2 separate regions of the Homo sapiens genome follow, and region 1 is linked to region 2. The links come from fine-mapping of genetic effects on gene expression. A gene starts in region 2. The other region holds a variant in brackets. All regions are shown on one strand. Distances are from middle to middle. Region 1 overlaps NLGN3 (neuroligin 3). Region 2 holds the start of IL2RG (interleukin 2 receptor subunit gamma).

The links. PIP is the estimated chance that this variant, and not a neighbour inherited with it, causes the effect. A credible set is the group of variants that fine-mapping cannot tell apart.
Region 1: its variant is the best candidate, but not a certain one, in a credible set for the expression of IL2RG in whole blood (TOPMed, PIP 0.70).

Annotation. Positions count from the first base shown.
Region 1 is chrX:71,152,910-71,155,409 of GRCh38, reverse strand. NLGN3 (neuroligin 3) reads right to left here. Exons shown (of 8, transcript NM_181303.2): 4 at 1,874-1,933; 5 at 47-196. Among named protein-coding and RNA genes, the nearest start is that of NLGN3, 9.3 kb to the right of the region's middle. RefSeq lists an enhancer at 1,728-2,227. The variant T/C (reference allele first, on the strand shown) is at 1,056.
Region 2 is chrX:71,110,310-71,113,274 of GRCh38, reverse strand. IL2RG (interleukin 2 receptor subunit gamma) reads left to right here and starts at 1,698. Exons shown (of 8, transcript NM_000206.3): 1 at 1,698-1,850; 2 at 2,225-2,378; 3 at 2,587-2,771. The coding sequence starts at 1,736. RefSeq lists enhancers at 1,546-1,935, 1,038-2,237.

The DNA.
Region 1 (2,500 bases), 42 kb before region 2:
CTTGCGAAGCCAGTCTTCCTTCCAGGCACCAGGCAGGGAACCATACCTAGCACTCCAACCCGATAGTTGAGGGTGATGACGATGACATTGCCATAACTGGCGAGGATGCTGCCATCAATCATGTTGCCTGTCCCTTCCATGTAAGAGCCTCCGTGGATGTAGACCATGACGGGTTTAGCACCACTGTCCCGGATGTCTGCAAGGAGAAGGGGTGAGACACAGGCTGGGTGGGATGCCCTTGCTCCCCCACCCCTGCCAGCCCAGGGGGTGGGTGCGGGCAGCAAAGCTATCCCAGGTGCCAGGACACCACCGCCATCCCTGAGGGCAGGACTCATGGGGTTGCTCAACCTGGAGCTCAAGCATCAGCCCGAGACAGTGGGGCTTCAGTGATATTTTTAAAGGCTCTGGTTTCAAGTGCCTCCCAGCTGAAGGCAGCCAGGCATGTGATACAGCCAGGCCTCAGTGGGCCATGGCTGGGCCCTGGGGGCGGGGGGCAGCAGAAAGAGGAAGGGCTGGTCCTTTAGCCACATCAAGTGAGTCGCTGCCCTGGGCACCCAGGAGTCCTGGGACCTGACATGGCTTTAGAGAGCAGGAGCTGGGGAGCCCTGAAACCCCCAAGACTAGACCAGTTACATGGAAAAACGGCCATTGGCAGCAGCTGGCCCCCCAGTGCAGACAGAGACAAGAGGTGTGGGAATAAGGGGTGGCACAGGGAGAGAACAAGGAAGGATGTGGGAAAGGGGAGTGAATGGCAGAGATAGGGTGGGGGGAACCTTGTTGACATGGTTTCTTAGCCATGTGCCCATTTCCCCATTCTCCCTGGGCAGACTTAACCAGAAGCATTGGGGATGGGGAAGAACTAAGAATGACAGAGCCTGCTCCCAGTCAGCACCAAGATGAAGATGGAGCCTCCCCAGAGGCCATTCAACAAGGGACCATCAAGCGGCTGCTCCCGAGCCCAGGCGGCACGGCATCAGGGCTGGGGCAGTCAAGAGAAGGCTCCAGGCCTGATCACCTCTGCCTGTAGCCTGTCAGTCCGTGAACTGGACCAATAC[T/C]CTCTGCCATGCCAGCACAGCCCTACCCATCACCACTGGGCCCCCCTGAGCTGCCTGGCCCCTTCGGGGCAGAGGGGCAGGGCCAGGGCATGGAGGAGGAAGGGAATGCTCTCTGCTGCGGAGCAAACAGAACTTGTTTCTCCAAGGAGGAAGGCTGGTCCGATCATTGCCCAAGGATCTTATGCCATCTATTGATGGCTGTGGTGTCCTGGCCTCAGCCTGGCATTTTAGCCCAGTCTTTCTGGCCTTGTCTTGTACCTACTGCAGCCCCTAGCCCCGAGACCATCTCTCTCTTTTCTAGAAGGCTGGGGAGGTTCTGGTGCTGCTTTTCCAGCCCCTTTGGTTGTCACTGCCTCACTTCCCAGTTCACCATCCTGCGGGGCCCCTCTCCCAGAAGCCAGGCTCCCTGTGAGACACAGGGGTCTCTTCACTGAAACACAGGTAATCTCCTTGCCGTTCCGTTGTCTTTGTCCTCTCCCCGCCCTCAGTGGTCCTGCTTTCTCTCCACTCTCCCTGCTGCTCAGTAGGGGCAGGTGCCTCTGAACCACAGAAGATGGGGAAGGGGCGGGAGACCCAGGCAAGGAGGATGTCCTCCCCATGGCTCTGCTTGTGGTCCCCTGCTCCTGCCAGCCATGTCCATCACCCCGGAACTCCCAGTGGCCAACAGGGCCAAAGACAGATGAACAGCCCAACGGCCTTGTACAGGAACAGAAACACACCAACGGACAGACAGACAGACAGACGGGGCTTCTCCCCATCGAGAAGGGGAGGGGCTCTGTGCCATGCACCAGCCGCCGCGCCCTGCAGCCCCCAAATACCTTCATCTTCATCCCCGTCATTATCCGCTAAGTCCTCGCCCTGTTTCTTAGCGCCGGATCCTGGGGACCAGACACGGGGAGACACAACAGCACAGAACAGAGAACAAAACAGAGAGAGAATTCAAAAACAGCATGACTGCAGTGTGGCCCAGCAAGCCAGCTCCGGGCCTGGGCCCAGGACAGGCAGGAGGGATGGCAAGAACTGAGGGAATGGGTGGGCTGAGGCCCAGACCTTCATCAGGATGATGGTGTTGCAGGCCCCTGCTGTGCTGGCCTCTCTGCACCGCCTTGCCCCGCCTCCTTGTCCCCAACAGCCCATCTCAACCAACTACCTTTCCAGTGAGGAAGGAGGTAGCAGCAAGTGGGCCAGGGCACAGAGCCAGAGACCCTCTCAGGGGAAGGATTCATTCTGGGTGGAAGGGGCTGCTTGTGTGTACACAGGCAGGTCGAGCTGGAGAGCAGGGTCAGGTACCAAGGGTGAGGGGTGACACTGCCAGCAAGTGTGGAGGTTGTGGATACGAGGTACTTAGGGCAGAGACGTGTAGAGGGACCCCAGGCCTGAGCTCCTGGGGCCCAGTGGGCAGGCTCAAGCTGGGCCTCAGCTGACCCTGATTCCCACAGGAGAAA
Region 2 (2,965 bases):
GTGCAGTGGCGCAATTTTGGCTCACTGCAACCTCTGCCTCCTAGATTCAAGCGATTCTCATGTTTCAGCCTCCCGAGTAGCTGGGATTACAGGTGTTGCCACCATGTCTGGCTAATTTTTGTATTTTTAGTAGAGACGGGGTTTCACCAGGTTGGCCAGGCTGGTCTCGAACTCCTCAAGCAATCCACCTGCCTTGGCCTCCCAAAGTGCTGGGATTGCAGGCGTGAGTCACTGCACCCAGCCGAGAGAATAAATTTCTGTTGGTTTAAGCCACTCAGTTTGGGGATAACTTATGGCAGCCCTAGCAAACTAATACATACTAAAGATACATACTAAATACTAAGCTGGGCCATATAGTCCAGTTTTCCTGAGACTCCCAGGCAAGTGCTGTTTTTCTTTGCTTAATATCCTACACCACTTTCTGTCTGGTAAAATTACACTCATTCTTTAAGATGCCACTGAAATAGCACCTCTTCAGCACAGCCTTCACTAAACTATCCCCCTCTCCATCTTGGTAAATTTAGTTACTTCCTCTTCTGTGCTCACATACTTTGTAGTATCTCTACATTTATGCTATAGGACTTGTTACACTATGTTGTATTACTTGTTTATGTCTTCCCCACTTTTCTGTGAGTGTCTAGAAATATGAGGATGTCTTGTTGGTCTATTTCCAGAACATAAGCACAGTGCCTGGCACATATTAAAAACGTAATAAATGTTTGCTGAATAAATAGTTTCTGTAAGTGGCTTCTCCAATCACCTCTGTGTTTTCGGGGAAGGTAAAACTGGCAACAGGATGAAGAATGGATTAGAGAGCAGAGGGCCTTTAGAAAGGGAGGCCAGTTGATGGAGTCTAGATAGAATCATGACTAGAGCTAATGAAAGACTGATTTAGCAGAGTGGCTGTGGTAATGGAAAGGAGGAAACCGTTGGGAGAAACACCACAGAAGCAGAGTGGGTTATATTCTCTGGGTGAGAGAGGGGGAGAAATTGAAGCTGATTCTGAGGTTTCAAGTCTGGGTGACTGAGAGGGTGACGATACCATTGACTGAGGTGGGGAAGGCAGGAAGAGAAGCAGAGTTGGGGGAAGATGGGAAGCTTGAAGCTAGTATTGTTGTTCCTCCATTTCTAGAATATTTTTGTATTATAAGTCACACTTCCTCGCCAGTCTCAACAGGGACCCAGCTCAGGCAGCAGCTAAGGGTGGGTATTCTGGTTTGGATTAGATCAGAGGAAAGACAGCTGTATATGTGCCCACAGGAGCCAAGACGGTATTTTCCATCCTCCCAAAACAGTAGAGCTTTGACAGAGATTTAAGGGTGACCAAGTCAAGGAAGAGGCATGGCATAGAACGGTGATGTCGGGGGTGGGGGTTCAGAACTTCCATTATAGAAGGTAATGATTTAGAGGAGAAGGTGGTTGAGAATGGTGCTAGTGGTAGTGAACAGATCCTTCCCAGGATCTAGGTGGGCTGAGGATTTTTGAGTCTGTGACACTATTGTATATCCAGCTTTAGTTTCTGTTTACCACCTTACAGCAGCACCTAATCTCCTAGAGGACTTAGCCCGTGTCACACAGCACATATTTGCCACACCCTCTGTAAAGCCCTGGTTTATAAGGTTCTTTCCACCGGAAGCTATGACAGAGGAAACGTGTGGGTGGGGAGGGGTAGTGGGTGAGGGACCCAGGTTCCTGACACAGACAGACTACACCCAGGGAATGAAGAGCAAGCGCCATGTTGAAGCCATCATTACCATTCACATCCCTCTTATTCCTGCAGCTGCCCCTGCTGGGAGTGGGGCTGAACACGACAATTCTGACGCCCAATGGGAATGAAGACACCACAGCTGGTGGGAAATCTGGGACTGGAGGGGGCTGGTGAGAAGGGTGGCTGTGGGAAGGGGCCGTACAGAGATCTGGTGCCTGCCACTGGCCATTACAATCATGTGGGCAGAATTGAAAAGTGGAGTGGGAAGGGCAAGGGGGAGGGTTCCCTGCCTCACGCTACTTCTTCTTTCTTTCTTGTTTGTTTGTTTCTTTCTTTCTTTTGAGGCAGGGTCTCACTATGTTGCCTAGGCTGGTCTCAAACTCCTGGCCTCTAGTGATCCTCCTGCCTCAGCCTTTCAAAGCACCAGGATTACAGACATGAGCCACCGTGCTTGGCCTCCTCCTTCTGACCATCATTTCTCTTTCCCTCCCTGCCTTCATTTTCTCCCCAATCTAGATTTCTTCCTGACCACTATGCCCACTGACTCCCTCAGTGTTTCCACTCTGCCCCTCCCAGAGGTTCAGTGTTTTGTGTTCAATGTCGAGTACATGAATTGCACTTGGAACAGCAGCTCTGAGCCCCAGCCTACCAACCTCACTCTGCATTATTGGTATGAGAAGGGACGAGGGGGAGGGGATGAAGAAGAGGTGGGTTGGATCAGAGACCAAGAGAGAGGGTAGCAAGTCTCCCAGGTACCCCACTGTTTTCTCCTGGGGTAAGTCATAAGTCGGTTGAGGGGAGATGAGGCTAGGCTCTGGATATCTGCAGTACCCAGATTGGCCCCACTGTTCCTCTTCCTTCCAACCTTTCTCCTCTAGGTACAAGAACTCGGATAATGATAAAGTCCAGAAGTGCAGCCACTATCTATTCTCTGAAGAAATCACTTCTGGCTGTCAGTTGCAAAAAAAGGAGATCCACCTCTACCAAACATTTGTTGTTCAGCTCCAGGACCCACGGGAACCCAGGAGACAGGCCACACAGATGCTAAAACTGCAGAATCTGGGTAATTTGGAAAGAAAGGGTCAAGAGACCAGGGATACTGTGGGACATTGGAGTCTACAGAGTAGTGTTCTTTTATCATAAGGGTACATGGGCAGAAAAGAGGAGGTAGGGGATCATGATGGGAAGGGAGGAGGTATTAGGGGCACTACCTTCAGGATCCTGACTTGTCTAGGCCAGGGGAATGACCACATATGC